Linked DNA regions of Homo sapiens: region 2 is linked to region 1. Evidence: fine-mapped expression QTL. A gene starts in region 1. The other region holds a variant in brackets. All regions are shown on one strand. Distances are from middle to middle. Region 1 holds the start of RNF10 (ring finger protein 10). Region 2 has its middle 8.6 kb from the start of SRSF9.

Region 1 (5,376 bases):
CTCGAACTTCTGGGTTTAAGTGCTCTTCCTCCTCCCCTGCCTCAGCCTCTTCACAGCTGGGACTACAGGTGCGTGCCACCACGCCCGGCTCATTTATTTTTTTGTAGGACAGGGTCTCGAACTCCTGGGCTCAAGTAATCGGCCTGCCTCAGCCTCCCAAAGTGCTGGGATTATAGCCACCCAGCCCATTTGAAATGTTAACAATGACAAATACTTGCTTTGGTCAAACTACTATAGAATTCTGTATCATCTTGTTGGGTAATCAGAGTTAATTCCACTAACCAACATATTCAAAGTGAAGGACATAGCAGTAAAATTCCTTAAATACCTGTTTGTTTGTTTTATTTTAAGTTGTCACAAGCTTTCACCTACTGCTAAGAAATAAACTTAAGGCATTTATTGCAACTGACTAATGAATGTATGTTAGTGGCTTAAAGAGGAGCCCCAGAAAAATTAGTTGAGAATTCACAGTTGGAGAACCAAATCCTTAACATACATCTGGGAATAGAGTACAAAAATAAACTTACTTATCAATTGCTTTGAACAGACCACTCTAAACCAGTTCCAACACTGACCAAAAGGACTGGTTACCTTCTATCTTTTGAGGGATCTATGGCAAAGCTACGCATGTGCAGAACTGCAAAATCAGTCTGCATACATGCCATTTCCTGACACGGCCCGAGAACCCATACTCCAATGGTCTCACACCAGGTAAACAAGTTTGCCATATCCAGCAGGTGAACTCTGAGCGAGTTAGCAGACCTTACAATTTTCTGTTTTTTTTGTTTGTTTTAAGTCAGCCTTAGTTTTCTTTTTACTGTTTAGAGATGGGGGTCTCTGTTACCCAGGCTGGATGGTATGCAGTATCGTGATATAGCTCACCGCAGCCTCAACTTCCTTGAGCTTAAGCGATCCTCCCACCTTACCCTTCCAAGTAGGTAGGGTTACAGGTGTGTGCCACCACACTCGGCTAATTTTTTTTTTTTCTTATGGAGACGAGGGTCTTACTATCTTGCCCAAGCTGGTGTGAAACTCCTGGGCTCAAGCTATCCTCCCACCTCAGCCTCCCAAAGTGTTCGGATTACAGGCATGAGCCACCGCGCCCGGTCTCACTCTAAACAGTTTTTTTAATCTTGACAAGTTTTAAACTGGACCTCCACATTTAGGGACTTCAAATATTTCCCTCTCTGCCACAACATCCCCACTGTCGCTGAAAACACCTTCCTATTACTGCTAATGTGACTGAAATACAAAAGAGAGCAGAGATTAGTACAAACTTCGAAATAAAATGAAGAACACCGGGACTCTAGCCTCTGCCAACTCCTAACATCCTACCTGCTCAGTTTATTCCTTCTTTAAATATGAACAATTTCACCCTGGTAGACAAGTCAGTGACTGGCACAGTGAAAACAGAGGTAAAAACTTCACCTAGTACTTGGCACATGGTAAGCCCTCAATTAAAGGTAGCTATTATCAACATGGTCATAATATTGACAGACTTGATTACAGAAATAAAACCTTCCCTGTTAAAGGACAATCCTATAGTCCAACACACAACAATAGACATTATGTGTATTTGGCGCAAAATAGACGCCAGATATCCTAAGACCTTAGTTCATTTGTTTTGTTTTTAATTAGTTTTTTAAGTTTATTTAATTATATTACCTCCACCTACCTTTACAAGTAAGTAAACTCGGGGCACTCACTCAAGGTCTGGCAAACTGGGACCCAAAAAGACTGAATTCATAGTCTGCGCTCTTAACCCCACAATGAATAGCCACTGAAGGATGACTTCCTCTTCGACAGAGGAATGGATCTGGGACCAGGTTATTAAATAAGAGATCTGAGTTTGAAAGGTCCTTGGGCCCTCACCCACCCATCTAAACTTGAACACTATCCAATGTTAATTCAACATTAAAGGGTAGAACAACTTAGTGGTTTTAGGAGCGTGGACTGATGAGTCACACAAACCAAGTCTTAAGGCCTGCTGTGAGCCAAATACTAGCTGGGTGACCTTACCCTTTCTCATCATATGCAAAATGGCGATAAGAACAGCACCTGCTTAATCGAGCAGTTTTGAGTATTAATGTAAATGATCCACGTAAACCACGCAGCACAGCGCTCATTAATGTAACTGCAAATGAGAGCCATGGAAAAGGGCAGGTAGGAGCTATAAAAGAAAGTGGAGCCTGTCCCCGAGTAACCCAGCCGATGAGAGCAACGACTCTCCCCAGCAGCAGGGGCAGTCGCCCCCGCCCACTGCCGCAGGCCCGTCCTTACCGCTCTTGGGTTTAGACTCGCCGGCTGGCCCCGCCGAGGCGGAGCGGGGCGGCTGTTGCCCTTTGCTGCTGCCCGAAGAGGCGGAGGAGCTGTTGGAGCCGCTGTTCTTGTCCATGTCGGAGGCGGTGGCGGCGGCGTTGGGGGAGCTCAGCGGCATCAACGGGGGCCTCGGCGGCGACGGCAGTCGGAGCGGAGCGGGCGCGGCGGGGACCCAGGCTCATGGCGTTCAGGGCCGGCGGGGGTCGGCGGCGGCAGCGGTTCTCGGCCTTCATGGCGACATTTTTCCCTGTTTCCTTCCTTGGCTTCTCAAACTAGGAAGAGAAGCGGCGGACGGGGCTGTTAAGCCCGGCGGCAGCGGCGACCGAGGACGAGGAGGCCGGGGCTCGGGAGTCCGGGCCGGGCCTGGCGGGGCGGAGGCTGCGGGGGAAGGGGAGGCGAGGGAGGTTGCGCGAGCCCCGCCGGCCGGCCGGCCGGACACGCTCTCCCGCCGCGAGGCAGGGGAGAGGGCTGGCTGTCTCGGTGTCGGGGACTAGTGTCTCCGACACAGCAACGGATACTCGCCCCTGGGCCGAGGCCGACCTGCTCCGGGAATGGCGACGAGTCGCCAAACAGCATCTCAAAGAACCCGGATGGACTGTATATATAGTGGAGAGGGGGTGAGGTATTCTGGGAAATGTAGTTTTTGCCTACATCCGGGTCTCGTGGTTTGTTTTTTGGTTTTTGTTTGTTTGTTTGTTTTGGTTTTGTTTTTTTTATTTCCTCCCCCACCTCCGCCCCAACCCCACTGTGAGGGCATTCAAAATAATGGGACTTGCAGTTGCTCCAAGTCCAGGTTTTTCACTTAGTACACTAAAAATACAGTAACAATAATAATATACACTGATAATAATGTAGCCAAACATTGGAATACCTGTGGAACTCCTTTATAGACTCGTTTGATTTATGGTTCTTTTTTTTTTTTTTTGAGGCGGAGTCGCTCTGTCGCCCAGGCTAGAGTGCAGTGGCGCGATCTGGGCTGACTGCAAGCTCCGCCTCCCGGGTTCACGCCATTCTCCTGCCTCAGCCTCCCGAGTAGCTGGGACCACAGGCGCCCGCCACCACGCCCGGCTAATTTTCTGTATTTTTAGTAGAGACACGGTTTCACCGTGTTAGCCAGGATGGTCTTGATCTCCTGACCTCGTGATCTGCCCACCTCGGCCTCCCAAAGTGCTGGGATTACAGACGTGAGCCACCGCGCCCGGCCAATTTATGGTTCTTATTCTAGCGTTAATACCAATTGATTTATGGCCTTTAGTCTATCTCATATTAGGAATAATAATAATAACGTTAATAATGACAATACCTTACATTTAATATCACTTTACGGCACTTCTTCATACAGTACATCACTTTATTTCTTTAGCCTGGCGTGGCGGTGCGCACCTGTGGTCCCCATTACCCAGGAGACAGAGGCGGAAACAGGCCATAAGCAGTGTTTCATGCGTGTAATCCCAACACTTTGGGAGGCAGAGGTGGAAGGATCCTTGGAGGCCAGGAGTTCCAGACCAGCCTGGGGAATATAGCGAGACCCCTGTCTCTAAAGAATAAAAATATTTTTTAAAAAATTAGTTGGGCAGCCGGGCGTGGTGGCTCACACCTGTAATTCCAGCCCTTTGGGAGTCTGAGGAGGGGGCAGATCACTTGAGGCCAGGAGTTCAAGACCAGCCTGGCCAACATAGCAAAATCCCGACCCTATTAAAAATACAAAAATTAGCTGGGCTCTGAATAAAATAGTTTGAATAAAACTAACTTTAATTTAAAAGAGAGAAAGAAAAAAAAATTAGCCAAGCATAGTGGCTGTGGCTGCACACCTGTAGTTCTAGCTACTCAGGAAACTGAGGTGGGAGGATCACCTGAGCCCAGCAGTTGGAGGTTGCAGTGAGATACGATCGTGCCAGTGCACTCCAGTATGAGTGACAGAGAGGGAGACCCTGTCTAAACTTTTTTTTAAAAAGTAGAAACAGAGAACAAAAAGCAGATTAGTCATTTCAAAATTACTTTTCTTGTAAAGGTTTAAGCAGAATGGACTTCCTTATGTGGGGTAAAACTGACCAGTTTGGGGATTTGATGATTTCTCAGAAGGTCAGATAAACAATTTCGTTTAGGCGTGGTTGGGTAGAAATTCACCTTGAGTAACTCTGTTTTGGTTTGGTCTACTGTGCTGAAGCTCAGTGCAAAACAATGGGCTCCTATAAATTGTATTTAACAGCTGTTAACATTATCACATTTAATCTTCTCAATAACTAAATTTTAGACTAAGTGTGCCTGTAGTCCCAGCTACTCAGGAGGCTGAGGAGGGATGATCACTTGAGCCCAAGAGTATGAATCCAGCCTGGGTAACACAACAAGACTCTGTCCCTAAATAAATAAAATTTAAAGATGAGTAAATGGACTCCAAAAGTCCAGATAATTTGCCTATTATCACATAGCTAACAAGTGATGTTCTTACCTATGAGACAAGCAGTTCCTCATTTTACAGATACAGACTGAGATTTAGAAAATCATGCATATGGGGCCGGGCACGGTGGCTCACACCTGTAACCCCAGCACTTTGGGAGGCCAAGCCGGGTGGATCAACAGGTCAGGAGATCGAGACCAGCCTGACCAACATAGTGAAACCCCGTCTCTACTAAAAATACAAAAAAATTAGCCAGGCGTGGTGGTGCGCACCTGTAATCTCAGCTACTGAGGAGGCTGAGGCAGGAGAATCACTTGAACCCAGAAGGCACAGGTTGCAGTGAGCCAAGACTGCACCACTGTATTCCAGCCTGGGCAACAGAGCGAGACTCCATCTCAAAAAAAAAAAGAAGAAAGAAAATAATGTATGTGGGTCAGGTGCAATGTAATCCCAGCACTTTTTGGGAGGCCTGTAATCCCAGCACTTTTTGGGAGGCCTGTAATCCCAGCACTTTTTGGGAGTTCGAGGCGGGCAGATCACGAGGTCAGGATTTCGAGACCAGCCTGACCAATACAGTGAAACCCCGTCTCTCCTAAAAATACAACAATTAGCCGGGCGTGGTGGCGCACACCTGTAGTCCCAGCTACTTGGGAGGTTGA
Region 2 (5,376 bases), 56 kb after region 1:
AGGTGGGCAGATCACGAGGTCAGGAGATCGAGACCATCCTGGCGAACATGGTGAAACCCCATGTCTACTAAAAATGCAAAAAATTAGCTGGGCATGGTGGCGGGCGCCTGTAGTCCCAGCTACTCGGGAGGCTGAGGCAGGAGAATGACGTGAACCCGGGAGGCGGAGCTTGCAGTGAGCCAAGATGGAGCCACGACTCCAGCCTGGGCAACAGAGCGAGACTCCGTCTCAAAAAAAAAAAAAAAGAAAAATGCTTTGAGGTGGAACAAAAGGCATAATGGGAGACAACAAGGCCTTTCAGAGGTATAAACTCAAAGGAAAGTTCTAGATTGGGTCACACAGGCCTGGGCCCCTTACTAAGTCAAGGACCTGAAGGCTGAGGAGGCCTTGGCCAGGCAAAGACTCGGGAGGCAGAGGTAGAGGGAGCAAAACAGTGTCCAGGGAGAGGAGCCAGCCCATGCAAAGACCTGGAGGAAGGAAAGGGACACAGGCTTCCAGACAGCAGATCCCAGAGAAGCTGCCAGGAGTAGCAGGAGTGGAGGAGAAGCTGCTTCAGGCACATCCTGAAGGCCAAGGTGAGGGTGTGGAGATGGTGTTGTCTCTAGGGAGGCAGACACTTTGTCCCCTCTGCTGTGTCCCTAGCATCTAGCACAGTACACACTGTAGATGTCAGTATCTTGGAGATCTTTTCATATCCACACATATGAATGTGGTATTTTTAATGTTTGCATAGTATTCAGAACTAGAACTGTACATTTCCTGCTTAACCAGCCCCCTCTGGATGCAGATTGAGGTCCCCTCTAATTTTGGGGGAACCATAGGTTTTAATAAACATCCTCACATTTTGAATTCCGCTCCCCCTGAGCCCCATCTTCCTCACACAAGGAGGGATGATTGGATTTTTGCTTTGTCCCCTTCTGCTGTCCTTCTGTCTTCCAAACAAGCATCCTTTTGCTATTCACAGCTCTCCTTTGGACACTGTGAGACCATACTCCCCTCAAGGCCCCTTCCCCCAGACTGATCATGCCACCCCTTTACAATCATCCTATTCAGGGATATACAATAAACATTTGTATGGTAAAGGCAACTCATACTGATTGCCAGTGAACATCTGAAATACTTAGGACTGACATGTGTAATCTAACCCAGCCAGGCTCTGATTTACATTAGGGCATCTCACTGTAAGTAGCTTGTGGCACTAGTGCAAGGAAGAACAGCCCTCACCTCCACCCCATGCTCTAACTGTGCTGAACTATTTAGCTTCCCGAAAGCCCCAAGCTTGCCTCTGTCCTCCCAGCTTTCTTTGCAGTGCTTTCTTTCTGTCTGGAATGCTTTTCTTCTCCTCTCATTTACCTGCCTAGCACCATCTGGTTCTTCAGGTCTCAGTTTAGAAGAGCCACTCCCTCCAGGAAGTCTTCCCTGAACACTCCCCTCCAGCCTGGGTTAAGAGCTGCAGGAGTGCCCTGAATTTCTTGTAGCACATATCTCATTTTGTTATAATTGCCTTTTTAAATTTTATTATTATTATTATTATTATTATTTTTTTTTTTTTTTTTTTTTGGAGACGGAGTTTCACTCTTGATGCCCAGGCTGGATGGTGTGATCTCAGCTGACCACAACCTCCGCCTCCCGGGTTCAAGTGATTCCTCTGCCTCAGCCTCCTGAGTAGCTGGGATTACAGGCATGTGCCACCATGCCCGTCTAATTTTTTGTATTTTTAGTAGAGACGGGGTTTCTCCATGTTGGTCTCGAACTCCTGACCTCAGATGATCTGCCCGCCTCAGCCTCCCAAAGTGCTGGGATTACAGGCGTGAGCCACCGCGCCTGGCCTATTACTATTATTTTTTACACGGAGACTTGCTCTGTCACCCAGGTTGCTGTGCAGTGGTGTGTTCTCGACTCGCTGCAACCTCTGCTTCCCGGGTTCAAGCGATTCTCCTGCCTCAGCCTCCCGAGTAGCTGGGATTACAGGCACCTGCCACCATGCCCAGCTAATTTTTGTATTTTTAATAGAGACAGTTTCACAGCCTGGTGCGGTGGCTCACGCCTGTAATCCCAGCACTTTGGGAGGCCGAGGCAGGTGGATCACCTGAGGTCAGGAGTTCAAGACCAGCCTGGCCAACATGGCAAAACCCTGTCTTTACTAAAAATACAAAAATTAGCTGGGCGTGGTGGCGGGCGCCTGTAATCCCATCTACTCGGGAGGCTGGGACAGGAGAATTGCTTGAACCCAGGAGGTGGAGGTTGCAGTGAGCAAGATTGTGCCATTGCACTCCAGCCTGGGTGACAGATTGAGACTCCATCTCATAAAAAAGAAAAGAAAACAGACGTGGTTTCACCATGTTGGCCAGGCTGGTCTCGAACTCCTGACCTCAAGTGATCTGCCCGCCTCAGCCTCCCTAAGTGCTAGGATTACAGGCATGAGCCACTGTGCCCAGCCTGTAATTGCCTTTTTATTTTTTAGGCCAGGCATGGTGGCTTAATGTCTGTAATACTAGCACTTTGGGAGGCTGAGGCAGGAGGATCACTTGAGCTCAGGAGTTTGAGACCAGCCTAGGTAATATAGTGAGACCCTGTCTCTATTTAAAAAAAAAAAAAATTGGGGCCAGGCATGGTGGCTCATGCCTGTAATCCCAGCACTTTGGGAGGTCGAGGCGGGCGGATCACCTGCGGTAGGGAGTTCAAGACCAGCCTGACCAACATGGAGAAACCTCGTCTCTACTAAAAATACAAAATTAGCTGGGCGTGGTGGCGCATGCCTGTAATCCCAGCTACTCAGGAAGCCGAGGCAGGAGAATCACTTGAACCTGGGGGTGGAGGTTGCAGTGAGCAAAGATTGTGCCATTGCACTCTAGCCTGGGCAACAAGAGTGAAACTCCTTCTCAAAAAAAA[A/C]AACAACAACAAAAAAAAAAACTTTTGGCCGGGTGCAGTGGCTCAAGCCTGTAATCCCAGCACTTTGGGAGGCCGACATGGGTGGATCACCTGAGGCTAAGAGTTTGAAACCAGCCTGGCCAACATGGCTTAACCCTGTCCCTACTAAAAATACAAAAAAAAATTAGCCAGGCATGGTGGCGTATGCCTGTAATCTCAGCTACTGAGGCAGGAGAATCACTTGAACCCAGGAGGCGGAGGCTGCAGTGAGCTGACATCGCACCATTGCACTCCAGCCTGGGCAACAAGAGCGAAACTCTGTCTCAGAAAAAAAAATATATATATATTTTTACTTTATTTTTCAGAGACGGGGTCTTGCTCTGTCACCCAGGCTGGAGTACAGTGGCGAGACCCTAGTTCAAAGCAGCCTCCAACTCCTGGCCTCAAGCCATCCTCCCGCTTCTACCTCCAGAGTAGCTGGGACTACAGGTGCACACCATCACACCCAGCTTTTTTTATTTATTTATTTATTTTTATTTATTTATTTTTTTTGTAGAGACGGGATCTACTAGGTTTCCTAGGCTGGTCTGGAACTCCTGGGCTCAAGCGAGTTCCCAGAGTGCTGGGATTACAGGCATGAGCCACCACGCCTGACTGTAATTGCCTTTTTAGTTGTCTGTGAATGGTGTGAGGGCAGGGTTGAGTCTTACTGTTGTATCCCGAGCACCAGTGCCCAGCACAGAGCCAGGCTCAATGTTCTATGGCTCGATAAATGTGGGTTGAATACATGAACAAATGTTGAGCAGACAAGGAGTGAAGCCACCACCAAAGTCCCAGATGCCATGTACATAACCCTGGGCTCTTAAAGCTGGGGTCCAAGCATAGCACTAGATAAAAAAAACCTGCTCTTGGCTGGGCGTGGTAACTCACACCTGTAATCCCAGGATTTTGGGAAGCCAAGACAGGTGGATCACTTGAGGTCAGGAGTTCGAGACCAGCCTGGCCAACATGGTGAAACCCAATCTCTACTAAAAATACAAAATTATCCAAGTGTGGTGGCAGGTGCCTGTAATCCCAGTTACTTGGGAAGTTGAGGCAGGAGAATCGCTTGAACCTAGGAGGCAGAGGTTGCAGTGAGCCAAGATCGTGCCACTGCACTCCAGCCTGGGCAACAGAGCGAGACTCCGTCTCAAAAAAAAAAACAAAAAAAACAAAACAAAAAACAAAGTCCGGGCGCGGTGGCTCATGCCTGTAATCCCAGCACTTTGGGAGGCCAAGGCGGGCGGACCACCTGAGGTTGGGAGTTCGAGACCAGCCTGACCAACATGGAGAAATCCCATCTCTACTAAAAAATACAGAATTAGCCAGGTGTGGTGGTGCATGCCTGTAATCCCAGCTACTCAGGAGGCTGAGGCAGGAAAATCGCTTGAACCTGGGAGGCGGAGGTTGCAGTGAGCCGAGATCGCACCACTGCACTCCAGCCTGGGTGACAAGAGCGAAACTCTGTCTCAAAAAACAAACAAAAAAACCCCCCAAACATCCGCTGTCCTTCTAGCACCTTCAAGGAGTGTGTCACAACAAGACAGACTGGCAGCCCATGAGAAGGATGGAATTACAAAAGAAACTGGTCCCCAGCTGCCTAGCAAGGAATGTCTGTCAATGTGACATTCACAGAAGCCCTGCACATGTGCTGGCTGAGGGGGAGAGCCAGCCTCAGGCAGACAGAAGGAAGTTCAGCCACTGGGCATGTGTTAGCATGGGGGATGTGTAGCCTAGAAGCTTCCTGGCTTTCAGTTATTATTATTTTTTTTTAACTTAAAAAAAAAAAACTCCAGATAATTCCCATACTTGTTTTTTACCTTTAAGGAATGTATTTGCCTTGGAGGTGCCATTACTGAATTATATTGACGCAGTTCATTAAAAATCTGCTTAGTATAAAACTGACTTGGGTCTAAAAAAATTAGGATTCTACTAAATAAATGCATCCTTTTTTGTTGCATTGAAAAACATTCTTAGTACTGTTATTAATCTTTTCACACCCCCCTACCCTTTGCTTGTGTTTCTGATTTACTCTGCTGTGAAGAAAGTTTTCAAGGTTTGTTACAGTGGAAAATGTTTTGGAAAAAGTTCTGGGTTGAGGGTAAGGAATTTAGAGCTTAGGAAATGAAATTTGGTGAACCTGATGAGCTCATTTGCCATTTTGTACCTCAGTTCCACTTTTCTGGAGCTAGAATAACTGTTCTTTATATACTAGTTAATAAAATCAACAGGTGTTTACTAAGCACTTACTATGTGCCAGTACCATAGGGCTGTAAAGGGAAGTGATTGGTCTCAGTGTTTCTTGGCCTTTTTTGGGGGAATGGGGGAGTACAGCTTATAGACCTTTGAGAATGATAAATTCCTACGCTGTCCTGTATGGTAGCCACTAGCCACATTTGGCTATTACAATTAAAGTTAATTATTGTTAAATATAATTTAAGAAGTTGGTTTCTCAGTTGCAGTAGC

What was found. PIP is the estimated chance that this variant, and not a neighbour inherited with it, causes the effect.
Region 2: its variant is fine-mapped to the expression of RNF10 in lung (TOPMed, PIP above 0.99).

What each region holds. Positions count from the first base shown.
Region 1 is chr12:120,531,873-120,537,248 of GRCh38, reverse strand. It overlaps RNF10 (ring finger protein 10), which reads right to left and starts at 2,893. Exons shown (of 17, transcript NM_014868.5): 1 at 2,281-2,893. The coding sequence starts at 2,437. It overlaps LOC128071547, which reads right to left and starts at 2,552. Exons shown (of 1, transcript NM_001414895.1): 1 at 2,292-2,552. The coding sequence starts at 2,552. The coding sequence ends at 2,292. RefSeq lists silencers at 2,674-2,743, 2,842-2,995.
Region 2 is chr12:120,475,634-120,481,009 of GRCh38, reverse strand. It overlaps a transcript of DYNLL1 not described here. Among named protein-coding and RNA genes, the nearest start is that of SRSF9, 8.6 kb to the right of the region's middle. The variant A/C (reference allele first, on the strand shown) is at 2,893.